2 separate regions of the Homo sapiens genome follow, and region 1 is reported to be linked to region 2. Evidence: microRNA targets listed by miRTarBase, many of them from high-throughput screens and not tested one by one. Region 2 holds a microRNA gene; the other region holds the end of a gene's coding sequence.

The links. Region 2 holds the annotated microRNA hsa-miR-3689a-3p (CUGGGAGGUGUGAUAUCGUGGU, at 2,032-2,053, opposite strand). A microRNA usually pairs through its seed, bases 2 to 8, with sites in the 3' UTR of a target mRNA and lowers its output. Matches are read on the target gene's strand: a 7mer-m8 pairs with bases 2 to 8, a 7mer-A1 pairs with bases 2 to 7 and ends in A, and an 8mer does both.
Region 1: the mRNA of CDKAL1 is a reported target of hsa-miR-3689a-3p. Seed matches in the 3' UTR shown: 8mer at 1,518-1,525, 8mer at 1,655-1,662 and 8mer at 2,233-2,240.

The regions. Positions count from the first base shown.
Region 1 is chr6:21,230,029-21,237,028 of GRCh38, forward strand. It overlaps CDKAL1 (CDKAL1 threonylcarbamoyladenosine tRNA methylthiotransferase), which reads left to right. Exons shown (of 16, transcript NM_017774.3): 16 at 820-2,376. The coding sequence ends at 1,011. It overlaps LOC107986578 (a long non-coding RNA gene), which reads right to left and starts at 1,031. Exons shown (of 2, transcript XR_001744021.2): 1 at 663-1,031. RefSeq lists an enhancer at 193-1,392.
Region 2 is chr9:134,847,463-134,854,727 of GRCh38, forward strand. It overlaps MIR3689A (microRNA 3689a), which reads right to left and starts at 2,102; the gene lies at 2,025-2,102. It overlaps MIR3689C (microRNA 3689c), which reads right to left and starts at 1,907; the gene lies at 1,836-1,907. It overlaps MIR3689D1 (microRNA 3689d-1), which reads right to left and starts at 2,220; the gene lies at 2,147-2,220. MIR3689B (microRNA 3689b) reads right to left here and starts at 2,810; the gene lies at 2,663-2,810. It also overlaps MIR3689D2, MIR3689E, MIR3689F and LOC101448202.

The DNA.
Region 1 (7,000 bases), not on the chromosome of region 2:
GTACTTTGAGGGGACTGAGTGTGGGGTTATGTGGGGTGGGTCACTCTTGGCGCAGCCCTCCTGTGGCAGCAGACCAGCTGGGAATCTTTGTCCTAGGGATGTGTTTGCTGAATCATGGCTTCCATGGTTGTTGGTTGGTTTGTTTGTTTTTGAGACAGGGTCTCACTCTGTTGCCCAGGCTGGAGTGCAGCAGCGCAATCTTGGCTCACTGTAGCCTTCACCTTCCAGGTTCCAGCAATTCTCCTGCCTCAGCCTCCAGAGTAGCTGGGACTACCGGCACCTGCCACCACACCCAGCTAATTTTTATATTTTTAGTGGAGACGGGGTTTCACCATGTTGGCCAGGCTGGTCTCAAACCTCTGACCTCAAGTGATCAGCCCGCCTTGGCCTCCCAAAGTGCTGGGATTACAGGCGTGAGCCACCACACCTGGCCCATGGTGTTTCTTTGTCATTCTTCCATTGCTGAGAAGATATGGTTGCATCTCTCTAAGAGTTAAATATGTCTGTGGTATGACTCCACTTTACACAGATTCTACCCTTCATGAATTCTGCCTTGATTTTCTATAAACACGGCCCGTCTTTCTCATACAGTTTATGTGTAGTCTGGAGTCATGAACTTGGCCTGGCCCTTCAAGGAAAGGAACTGACTCATTCATACCTACCTTGGGGCCACCTGGCCCATGGTGGGTGTTCAAACGTGTCTCTGTTGAAGGAGTACATAAAAGGCGGCACCTTCTGGAACCCATTGCTTGATTGATATCACAACAGGGCTTTCTCTGCATCTAAAAATAATTTTTTCCTCTGTTTCTCTCTTTATAGGACTTCAGAAATGGGCTTGGGAACCAGCTGAGTTCAGGATCCCACACCTCTGCTGCATCTCAGTGTGACTCAGCGAGTTCCAGAATGGTGCTGCCCATGCCAAGGCTACATCAAGACTGTGCGCTGAGGATGTCCGTGGGCTTGGCTCTGCTGGGTCTTCTTTTTGCTTTTTTTGTCAAGGTCTATAATTAGAATACAACTAATGGAAACATCTATAAAGAAGAATACATTTCTAATTAAAATCTTCAATGAACAGGAAAGCGACATCTCCATTCTCCAAGGGCAATAATTTGTACTGGTCATGCTGCCTCCTTCTCAGCCACTCTTCTTAATGAGGCTCCCCCTGTCTCACATTGAGTTGGGCCCATTGGTTATTTGACCTAAAACCTAATCACCGCTACCATAGCACATCCTTCAAATTAAACTGCTTTTGGTTTACTTTTAGCAAGAAATGCAAGCGGTTGCATTTTTTTCTGTTTGTTTCAATCTCTAATCTTTAAGTCAGAACCTAATTGTACAGTGGCTCTGGCCATCTTTTCCTCATGTGGAAGAATTTTCTATCTTTAATAAACTTTTTCTTTGTTTTTTTTTTCCAGATGGAGTTTCGCTCTTGTCCCCCAGGCTGGAGTGGTGCAGTGGCACGATCTCAGGTCACTGCAACCTCTGCCTCCTGGGTTCAAACGATTCTCCTGCCTCAGCCTCCCAAGTAGCTGGGATTACAGGCATGCGCCACCAAGCCCAGACAATTTTTTTGTGTTTTCAGTAGAGACGGAGTTTCACCATGTTGGCCAGGCTAGTCTCGAACTCCTGACCTCAAGTGATCCGCCCGCCTCGGCCTCCCAAAGTGCTAGGATTACAGGCGTGAGCCACTGCGCCCGGCCTCTTTAATAAATATTTTTAAGTGCATCTTCCCCTTCAGGCTTTGTTTGGAGTCCCAGTGCTACAAACATTGTATTTTTCACAGCAGATGTGTTCCTGAAAAGTGTATAGAAACCTGTTCTGGGAACCTGAATGCTTTTGGAATGCACGGGGAGAGTCTGCCAGCTAAAGGACTCCTGGCAACATTCTGTGAAATATGAAACTGGAAAACTGGATTTGTCGAAAACTAATTGTGCCCATTTTCTCACATTTTTGATCCATTGGGGTTTTTTTTTTGTTTTTGTTTTTTTTTTTTTTTGAGTCAAGGTCTCACTCTGTCACCCTGGCTGGAGTGCAATGGCACTATCTTGGCTCACTGCAGCCTTGACCTCCTGGACTCAAGCAGTCCTCCTACCTCAGCCTCCCTAATAGCCAGGGGCTACAGGCATATACCACCATGCCCAACTAATTTTTTAATTTTTTGTAGAGATGAGTGTCACTATGTTGCCCAGGCTTGCCTGGAACTCCTAGCCTCAAGCAGTCTTCTTGCCTCAGCCTCCCAAAGTGCTGGGATTACAGGCGTGAGCCACTCCACCCAGCCCAGATTAAATGTTTTTATTTCTACCTGCCATCATTGGTCTTTACTAAGTGAAGTGACTTCTTTCTTTAACAATAAATAGAATTGGTATACTAAGCAAATCCTATGTTTTTGAGAATTTATTTGGATTGCATAGGTACAGGAAAACCAGGTACCGTGTAGTTACCATAGGATATTTTCCATCTCGAAACCCATACCCCTCTTCAGCTCTTACATTTAACTCAAAATGTTTGTGTTTTGTGTGTCTTTTAAGGAACCCAAATTAAAATTCAGTCATGTCCTAGTTGGTAAATTATAAAATATATATGCTTTTAGTGTTAGTACATTTCTCCTGGAACTGGTATGTGCTTCTAAGAGGTGCTCACATTTAGAATGCAAAAATCCTCCTGTGCTGCTTCTAGTCCTGCAGTGAAACATCCACTTGGGAGCACCCCTCACTTCTTAGCAGGAATGAGAAGAGGACAAGAACCTACCATGTGCCTCCCTTCTTGAGCTCTACGCAGTCATTTCTTTGTTAATAAACAGTGGGTTCCAGTGTGGTGCTCATTTAACAAAAACCTAGCAGAGATAAAAATGCCATCCAAAGCCTAGAGTTGCACTAGATCAGACATAGAGAAAGCTTTACACCTGTAACTGATTGGAGACAAAAAGGATTTTTTCTACCTCCCTTTTCTCTTTCCCTACTCTTTTCCTCACTCCCTCATCTGTTTATTTCCTCCCTTCTAGCTCTATGCTGTCCTCGCCTTTTTTCATTTTTTTCTTCCTGTAAGAGAATGATACACCCAGTCATCCAAATTCCCCCCCTGCTGCTCTCACCTACCATGGCAGGGATCCTCAAGGATCGTTTCAGCTGTACAGGATTCTCCCTACTTCCTGCTGTGACTGTTATTTACCCTCAATTTGGCTGCAGCTTCACTCTGCCGTTTGACCCAGAAAGGGACCGAGGTCACTGCCCGCAGCAGACGCTGGACCTTCATGAAATCAGTCTCCATACTGGCGACCAATTGGTGAGAGGGGTAGCAGTGTTCTGGAAATCCAGGGTTTTTCTTCCCCCTGTGACCTCCATCTCTAGGGAGGGGGAGGGAGAGAGCAGAGAAGGATGCAGTGCAAGTTAAAAACAGTTTTCTTAAGCCCTGGACTCTGAATGGGGCTGAGTCTGGGAACCACGGGAGCAAGTGTGATCATGAGTAGAGCTGTTACTTTTCCAGCCTGTCTCCTTCCTGCCCACAGTGCAACTGCGCTTCTCCCGCCCCGCTGAAGTTAGGCACGAAATGTGAAATGTGAGCGGAAGGGTCACGTCCTTCTTCGGGGCAGACATGTTCAGAGCTGGTGTACGGTTTACTGTGTGCTCTTCCCACTGCTGTGGTGATCCTGGACCCATATGTCAGAATGACGCCTCCCCGACCCTGGGTCCCTGAGTTAGTACAGTTGAGTAGGGCTCCTGGCCAGCATGTGCTACATAGGCATCAGGAACCAGAAATATATTGTGGTTGTGTTAAGCCACCGGCATCTGGGGGTCGTAGCCGTAGCATTCGTAACCTGATTTATACGAAGTGTCAGCCGTGATAGGATGCTTGACCCGCAGATTGTAAATGTAATTGTTATGTTTTCTTTGTATGCTTTTGTATGCTTTGCATTAGTATCAAGGGGTGTGTGTGTGTGTGTGTGTGTGTGTGTGTGTGTGTGTACTTCTCTGCTGAGAAGGAAACCTATGAAGTGATCTTTTCAATGCTTTGGCCAATTTTTTTCTTAAACTCTTTACTAGAATAAAACATACATATGAAATGGACATAAATCATAGGGATACAGGGATTTTTAAAAACTGAGCAAGCATTGTAGCCAGCACCAGGAGGCTCCCCATGTACCCTCCTAGCCATTAAGTCTGCCCCGCAAGGAGTAACCAGTATCCTTATTTCTAACATTACAGATTGATTTGCCTGATTCTAAACTTTCTATAAGTGGAATCATGTAGTATGCACTATTTCATGTCTACCTTCTTTTGTTCTACAGTGATTGTGAGACACATCCAGATTATTGTGTGAGCAGTAATTACTTCACGTTCATTGCTGAATAGTATTTCAGTGTATGAGTACACCACATTGTTCATTCTACATTTGAGTTCTTTCCAATTTTTTGTCTATTATGAATAATGCTGCTATAAACACGTTTTGTTAAGTGTTTATGTGATGATGTGAGGAGTACATGTCTAGGGGTGGAATTGCTGGGTCATAGCATTTGCATATGTTCAGCTTAGATACTGCTAAATGGTTTTCTGAAGTGGTTGTACCAATTTACATCCCCACCAGCAGTTGACATGAATTCTGTCATTCTCCCACTATTTTTTCTCTTTGGACCTTAGATATTCTTCAGCAGACCTTGTCTCTGCTGTCTCCCTTCCACAAGTCATTCCTATTTTAATAGTAATGATAATATTGACAACCATTAACTGTCTAGTCCTTAAATGAAATGCACTGGATGTTATACTTTGCACTTAACAGGTGTTAATCAGTCCTGAAGAAAAAATTTTGAGATACGTATTGTGATTCCCATCATACTGAGAAGAAAATCTAAAACTCAAAAGACTAAGTAACTTGTGCAAGAGGCACAGAGCTCTTAAGTTTAGAGGCAGGACTGGTACACAGCCTGACTCCAAAGCATATACTCCTCTTCTGTAAACTCCTCCTGCTCCTCTGTCCCATCTTTGACTTAAACTTGACCTGTGCCAACAGATACACATTTAGGATCAATCCTGTGGATGCCTGAGCTTGGGGGCCTTCAGCCTTTCAGTCTGTGTTGTCCTGCTCCAAGAATGTGCATGGTACTTGATATACTTTTTAAATAAAGATTTACTAATCAAGCTTTTTTCTTTGCCCTGCCCCCTCCTTCCTTCCTTCTTTCTTTCCCTCCTTTCTATTGTCCCTGCTTCATCTTATCATCCCTGCTTCCTTTCTTATCATCCCAGCATGAGATAGTCAGTTTGAGAATGTAAAGAATTCTTGGGTTAAAACTTTGCTTTGTTGCTGGGAAAATGTGTCTAAACATCAGATTTCCATATGTCATTCAGTCAAAACATATACTACTTCTACTGACTTCACTCCAGGTTGAAAATTTCAGTGTATATTGTAAGATGTCATGGAGGGAGAATTAGAGTTACAAATCAAGCTTCAAGAGGGTTTGTCATCATAAAACAAACATAGGAAAAAAATGAAGAGAGAGAGGGAGGGAAGAGAAGAAAGGAGGGGAGAGAAAAGGAAGAAAAAGAAAAGGAGAAAAGATATTCTTAAGGCTTGCAGCAACAACAAAAAAGGTAATCATATGAGATGATGGGTATGGTAATTCACTTGACTGTAGCCACCATTTTGCTGTGTATATGTGTATCAATACATGTTCACCTTAAATACTCACAATAAAAAATGAATATGTACGTTTTCTAAAAGGTTTGCTGGTCCCCCCAGGCACCCCAGGATGCTGTGGCACATTCACAGGAGCACCCTGGGATTCCTTAAATTTTTGGAGGGAACACAGCAACATCTGTCAGATACCAGGCCAACTACCAGCTCAAAATAGTTCACAGTTTTCAACGTTAGATTTCACAAATTTTGATGACACCATGTCTTTATAAAACTGGATTTTCAGCAATTGCTGTGATAAAAAGCAAGTATCAAGTGAAAATCAATGTGGAACAAGAAGTGAAAATTGTGATCATAGTCCAAGGTTTGAGAAGGGGTGCTGTACCCAACAGATGCACAGCTGCCATTAATAAGTAAAATTAATATGAAATAAAATATTAATATTTTTATCTAAGTTACATGTATTATTTTTTCAAACGGTTCTCATAAGATAGTAGGATATAAATGCTTATTCAGTTGTCAGGATTACCTATTTAAACAGAAGGTTAGCTGCTGCTTTTGGCCTAGGGGTACAAACAATCAAGAAAGTTTGAAAACCTCTGCTCTATGATACAACCTAATTTAAAGGATCCATGTCAAACTTATAATCTGGAGTCCTAATCCCTTCTCAAAATATTTTCCCCTTACTTTAAAGTTAGATTATCCATAGCATGTGTTTGATAAATTTACACTGGACTTGCCGTTGAGTTTGATTTTTATGATGTTGAAACTGTAAAGGAGTTAACAATCAGAATCACTTGGATTCAGCTCTCAGTTGTTTCCAATACAAATTTGAGGCAGAAAATATAAGGAAAGACCATGAGATTTTTGACATCAGCAAAACTTTAAATTCCAGCCAGACCACTTTTTCTTTTTGAGCCACATCTCTAAAACAGGAACAAGATTCCATTGTGGGTCATTGAAAGATAAGTGAACTCATGCATATAAAATACTGTATTCTTGACACATGACATTTCCTCCTCTTTTTTGATTACTGTAGCCACTTAAAGGTGAAAAATACCTTTATAAATAAAGTTAGGTGTTTTAAATTCTGATATCAACACATGACCACCCAAAAGATTTATATATGGAATAAAAAGATTCCTACCTTGAGAGAGATAGAGTCTGATTCTAACAAATGCAGCAAAGGAAGAAAAATTCAAAGGCAATGGACTGCAGCTGTATTTGAGGAGATCAAATTAATGAATAGTGTGGAGCACAGATTTGGGTGGCCAATCTAAGATCAAGAAGGAGATTTTCCATGGCCAAAGATGAAAAGAGCAACCAGATTAATAGGGAGGCCTAGAAGTCATGCCCTCCCCCATCCTGCTTTGAG
Region 2 (7,265 bases):
CCTGTGTATGTGGTGTGTGTGCCTGTGTGTGTGGTGTGTGTGGTGTGTGTGTGTGTGGTGTATGCCTGTGTGTGGAGGTGGTGTTTGTGCATGTGCCTGTGTGGTGTGTGTGCTGGCGTGTGTATGGTATATGTGTGCGTGCCTGTGGGGAATGTGCCTGTGTGTGTGGTGTGTGCTGCATGTGTATAGTGTGCATGCCTGTGTGTGTGGTTTGTGCTGTGTCTGTATAGTGTGTGTGTGGGTGTGGTGTGTGTGCCTGTGTGTATGGGGTGTGTAGTGTGTGTGGGGTGGGGATTGAAGTGCTCTCCTGGGTGACCAGGGCCACTGGGAAGGTTCTCTCTGCCTGGAGCCCAGCGGGCAGGAAGGGCTTTGCAGGAGAGGGAACAGCAGGGCAGAGGCCAGAGGGAGTGGGGAGAGGAAGGGGAAGTGGGAGGGGGCTGGTGTGGCCTGAGCAGAGATGGGGAGGGAAGCCACACGGGGCAGTAACCCAGACGCAGGCTGGGGGCGGTGCAGACCCATGAGAGTGGGTCACACTCCGGCTCCAGGTGTTTCAAAGATGGGGTTGATGGGATTTGCTGAGAAGAGGAGGTCGAAAGTGAGACGAGAGAATTCCAGGAGATGCTCAGCCACAGGCATGACCCCCACAGTGCCGCAGGAGCACACACACACGCGCACACACGTTTACCCACTGACAGCTGTGGCCTGGTGAGACCAGGCTGAGGACAGCTGCCTCAGCGACCCAGGCTCAGATGCCACCAGTGCCCCATGTGGCCTCGGGGAATCTGCTGCTCAGAGCTCCTGTCTGCCCATTTGCACATGGGACCCATGAATGGAGGAGGCACTCTGGCCATGTGGCCAGAGGCCCCGCTCCTGTCCTGCAGATGTCTTGGTGACGAAACCCGATCCATGCATGTGGAGGAAGGTGGGGGCATCCCTGGAGCTGGCCTGTGCCAGGCCAAAGTGCTCCTTTGAGCTGCCCAGGGCTGTCCTAGTGAGTGTCCTCAGGCTCTGGCCACCCAGGAGGGCCAGGGGCGTCTGCATTCGGGAGTGGGTTGGAGAAGGGGACGATGGGAGAGCAGGAAGCTTTTGCAACTGCTCCAGGGCCATTGGGAGGGTGCAATTGGCTGACACCCGGAACTTCATTGATGCTTACCCCACGTGCCCTCTGTGTGGGTCCCGCTCCCAGTGCGGACACCACCTCCTAGCTCTCACTAGCTCATGCAGGCCTCTGGGGCCCTCCTGAATCCACACCTCCCAGGGCTGGGTCCTGGTTGTTCCCCAATGGGGAGCTGTGCCTCTCTATCACCAGCAGGCATGTGATCACACCTCCCAGGAAGCACAGGATCACACCTCCCAGGAAGCACGGGATCACACCTCCCAGGAAGCACGGGATCACACCTCCCAGGAAGCACGGGATCACACCTCCCAGGAAGCACGGGATCACACCTCCCAGGGAGCACGGGATCACACCTCCCAGGGAGCACGGGATCACACCTCCCAGGGAGCATGGGATCACACCTCCCAGGGAGCACGGGATCACACCTCCCAGGGAGCACTGGATCACACCTCCCAGGGAGCACCGGATCACACCTCCCAGGAACCACGATATCACACCTCCCAGGAAGCACAGGATCACACCTCCCAGGAAGCACAGGATCACACCTCCCAGGGAGCACCGGATCACACCTCCCAGGGAGCACCAGATCACACCTCCCAGGAACCACGATATCACACCTCCCAGGAAGCACAGGATCACACCTCCCAGGAAGCACAGGATCACACCTCCCAGGAAGCACAGGATCACACCTCCCAGGAAGCACGGGATCACACCTCCCAGGAACCACAATATCACACCTCCCAGGAACCACGATATCACACCTCCCAGGAACCACGATATCACACCTCCCAGGAACCACGATATCACACCTCCCAGGAAGCACGGGATCAGACCTCCTGGGGAGCACGGGATCACACCTCCCAGGAAGCACAGTATCACACCTCCCAGGAAGCACGGGATCACACCTCCCAGGAACCACGATATCACACCTCCCAGGAAGCACAGGATCACACCTCCCAGGAACCATGATATCACACCTCCCAGGGAGCACAGGATCAGACCCCCCAGGGAGCACAGGATCACACCTCTCAGGAAGAACAGGATCACACCTCCCGGGGAAGACGATAGCACACCTCCCAGCGAGTGTGAGATCACACCTCCCAGTGAGCGTGGGATCACACCTCCCAGGAAGCATGGTATCACACCTCCCAGGAAGCACAGGATCACACCTCCCAGGAAGCACGGGATCACACCTCCCAGGAAGCATGGGATCACACCTCCCAGGGAGCACCAGATCACACCTCCCAGGAACCACGATATCACACCTCCCAGGAACCACGATATCACACCTCCCAGGAACCACGATATCACACCTCCCAGGAACCACGATATCACACCTTCCAGGAAGCACAGGATCACACCTCCCAGGAAGCACGGGATCACACCTCCCAGGAACCACGATATCACACCTCCCAGGAACCACGATATCACACCTCCCAGGAAGCACAGGATCAGACCTCACAGGGAGCACGGGATCACACCTCCCAGGGAGCACGGGATCACACCTCCCAGGGAGCACGGGATCACACCTCCCAGGGAGCACGGGATCACACCTCCCAGGGAGCACGGGATCACACCTCCCAGGAACCACAATATCACACCTCCCAGGAAGCACGGGATCACACCTCCCAGGAACCATGATATCACACCTCCCAGGAAGCACAGGATCAGACCCCCCAGGGAGCACAGGATCACACCGCTCAGGAAGAACAGGATCACACCTCCCAGGGAAGACGATAGCACACCTCCCAGCGAGTGTGAGATCACACCTCCCAGTGAGCGTGGGATCACACCTCCCAGGAAGCATGGTATCACACCTCCCAGGAAGCACAGGATCACACCTCCCAGGAAGCATGGGATCACACCTCCCAGGAAGCACAGGATCACACCTCCCAGGAAGCACGGGATCACACCTCCCAGGAACCACGATATCATACCTCCCAGGAACCATGATATCATACCTCCCAGGAAGCACGGGATCAGACCTCCCAGGGAGCACGGGATCACACCTCCCAGGAACCACGATATCATACCTCCCAGGAACCATGATATCACACCTCCCAGGAGGCATGGGATCAGACCTCCCAGGGAGCACGGGATCACACCTCCCAGGAAAGCACGGGATCAGACCTCCCAGGGAGCACGGGATCACACCTCCCAGCGAGTGTGGGATCACACCTCCCAGGAAGCACAGCATCACACGTCCCAGGAAGCACGATATCACACCTCCCAGGAAGCACAGGATCACACCTTCCAGGAAGCACAGGATCACACCTCCCAGGAACCACGATATCACACCTCCCAGGAAGCACAGGATACACCTCCCAGGGAGCACAGGATCATACCTCCCAGGGAGCACAGGATACACCTCCCAGGGAGCACGGGATCACACCTCCCAGGGAGCACGGGATCACACCTCCCAGGGGAGCCACAGGTTCTTAATGGGACAAGGCCAGCGCTTAGCAGAAGTGTTCCTGGTGTTTCTTGGTGTCTGCCCATCAGTGGCCCCCACCTGGCTGCCTGTTGAAGTCATCCGGGGAGCCCCCTAAAAGTACGCATTCTAGGTCCACCTCTAGGCCTTCTAAGCCAAGCCACCCGCGGGGAGGTGGTGGTAGAACCTGCAGTGTGTGAGGTCCCACACCCCACCCCATAGGGTTCTCTGCTCGGCTACACTTGGAGCTCACTTCACTTCAGCGGCATGGAGACAGTAGCCCCACCCGTCCCCACACACCCGCACTTCTGCAGGAAAGGGCCTTCCGTCAGAGCCCACAGCGGGCTGGGCCTGCAGCTGAATGAAGTCAACTACTTAAACGTCCTGAAGAGGGAAGGAAACCACACTGAATAAAGTTAGAGGTGTGCACATGCAACGTTCTGCATGCTTTAGAGTTACAGGTGTGCACAGGTAGCATTGTGTGTGCTTTGGATGGAGTTGGAGGTGTGCACAGGTAGCATTGTGTGTGCTTTAGATGGAGTTGGAGGTGAGCACAGGTAGCATCGTGTGTGCTTTAGATGGAGCTGGAGGTGTACACAGGTAGCATTGTGTGTGCTTTAGATGGAGTTACAGGTGTGCACAGGTAGCATTATGTGTGCTTTAGATGGAGGTGTGCACAGGTAGCATTGTGTGTACTTTAGATGGAGATGGAGGTGTGCACAGGTAGCATTGTGTGTGCTTTAGATGGAGTTGGAGGTGTGCGCACAAAGCACTGTGTGTGCTTTAAATGGAGTTGGAGGTGTGCACAAAGCATTGTGTGTGCTTTAGATGGAGTTGGAGGTGTGCACAGGTAGCATGGTGTGTGCTTTAGATGGAGTTGGAGGTGTGCGCACAAAGCACTGTGTGTGCTTTAAATGGAGTTGGAGGTGTGCACAGGTAGCATTGTGTGTGCTTTAGATGGAGTTGGAGGTGTGCACAGGCAGCATTGTGTGTGCTTTAGATGGAGTTGGAGGTGTGCACAGGTAGCATTGTGTGTGCTTTAGAAGGAGATGGAGGTGTGCACAGGTAGCATCGTGTGTGCTTTAGATGGAGTTGGAGGTGTGCACAGGCAGCATTGTGTGTGCTTTACATGGAGTTGGAGGTGTGCACAGGTAGCATTGTGTGTGCTTTACATGGAGTTGGAGGTGTGCACAGGTAGCATTGTGTGTGCTTTACATGGAGTTGGAGGTATGCACAGGTAGCATTGTGTGTGCTTTACATGGAGTTGAAGGTGTGCACAGGTAGCATTGTGTGTGCTTTAGATGAAGTTGGAGGTGTGCACAGGTAGCATTGTGTGTGCTTTAGATGGAGTTACAGGTATGCACAGGTAGCATTGTGTGTACTTTAGATGGAGTTGGAGGTGTGCACAGGCAGCATTGTGTGTGCTTTAGATGAAGTTGGAGGTGTGCACAGGTAGCATTGTGTGTACTTTAGATGGAGTTGCAGGTGTGCACAGGTAGCATTGTGTGTGCTTTAGATGGAGTTGGAGGTGTGCACAGGCAGCATTGTGTGTGCTTTAGATGGAGTTGGAGGTGTGCACAGGCAGCATGTGTGTGCTTTAGATGAAGCTGGAGGTGTGCACAGGTAGCATTGTGTGTGCTTTAGATGGAGTTGGAGGTGTGCACAGGCAGCACTGTGTGTGCTTTAGATGAAGTTGGAGGTGTGCACAGGCAGCATTGTGTGTGCTTTAGATGGAGTTGGAGGTGTGCGCAGGTAGCATCGTGTGTGCTTTAGGTGGAGTTGGAGGTGTGCCCATGTAACAAACAGTGGGTGCTTTAGATGCAGACATAAAACATAAGCATATATTTTACATACATATCATAGGAAACATACCACTGCATGGAGATGTGGGAGTCAGATTTAAATATTTCTAATATAATGAAACTACCCAGAGCATAAAAGGGAGCCATTCATTCTGATCCAACAATCTCACAAATGAGACTTTGTCACGAGAGCAATTTCAACAGAGGAGAAGAAACAGGCTGAGGATCCAATCAAAGTGAGGCAGGCTGTCCAGGAAGGCCATGTGGCCGTCTGGGGGTGGTGGATGTGCAACTGTAGTACATGGGAAGAGCAGACCCGGCGACAAGGTCCCACAGCCCTGGGGTGACCACTGAGGCATGGGAGGCATGGATGTTTGTCCAGATTTCCCCTGACAAAATGGCCTGCAAGATGAGAAAGCAGCATCCCCATCCTTGCCCAGGGGCCCTGGGAAGCCCATCCTGACCTCCCAGCAGTGTTCAAGGGGACGCTGCTCCCCCAGGAGAGCCCCTCCAGACATACAAGGCTCAGGCACACAGCCTGTGTTTCCAGTATGGCCAGGTCTCCAAAGGACTCTGAGGTCTGGGAGACCATCCCCAGCTCTGTGGGCTGTCCCCATCATGCCCTCAGCCTGGGAAAGATGGCAGGGGATGGAGGGACTGGGCCTGCTCCTCCTCCCCTCCTGCCAGCTCCCCTCCCAAGCTGGGAGAACTTGCAGGCTGCCTTGGCTCGACTCAGGTTGGGTTGTGATGACCCAGTAGCCTCTCTTGGAGACTGGGGACTGTTTCTGTACCCCAGCCAGGAAAACACCACTTTCTAGTAATATCCCAGGAGTGAATACTTCCACAAAAGCCACATGCACTTTCTGCCCCAAACATCTTGCTTTTTTTCTTTCCAATTGGCAAATGGAAATCACGTAGGTTTGGGAGAAGCCTAATTCCCCGACATCTGTTGAGAACTGACATGTTTAACAGAGCAAGAATCTCACTACCCTTTGGGACTTTCTCAAATTCATTTTAAAACTAGAAGCCACTAGACTGAATGCTCCTTAGAAGGGTCGGGATGATTTCAAAGACTCTTCCTAAAGGTGGGAGACTGATCATATAAGGGCAGCCTGCTCTGTGCTTGCGTTCTTTACCGCTGTATCACAAATGATCCCAAAGCCTGGAGGCTCAAAACCACACCTGTGTGTCATCTCACAGCTTCCGAGGGTCAGGAATCCAGAAACATCTCAGAGGATCTCTGCCTCGGGATCCCTCTTGCCCCAAAATTGCAATCAAGGTGTCACCCAGGACTGGGGTCTTATCCGGAGCTCATCTGGGGAGAGCTCCACTTCCAAACTCACTCACTGTGGTTGGCAGCATTCGGGTCCTTGAGTGCCATTGGACTGAGGGCCTCAGGTGGTGACTAGCTGTTGGCTGGAGGCCACCCTCAGTTCTTTATGATGTGGACCTCCCAGCACAGCCACCTGCTCCATCACAACCACAAGAGGAGAGTCTGCTAGCAAGATGGAAGCACCATCTTTTATGCCAATCACAGAAGGGATGCTCCATGTCCCTTGCTATATTCTGTGGGTTGGAAGCAAATTACTACGCCCAGCCCAGATTCAAGGGGAGGGGACTCCACAAGGTTGAGGGAGCAGCTTGGGGAGCAGCGGTGCCAGCTTTGTGTCAGCCTGCTTAGGGTTCGGGAGGCGTGAGTGTCGATGCCTGTGTGCTCTTCAACTCTGGGACCTGAAGTGTGTTTCTTAAACATTCATGCATGGGATGGGTCAGAAGCGAGATGTCCGGCTGCCTGGTTCCCTCATCCACAAAACAGACTGTGCTTCCACAGCTTGTAGGGTCAGATGAGTTCATGGCTGGGACACGCTTTCTCCCAGGGCCCCAGCAACTGTCATGCACTCAATCACACCAGTGC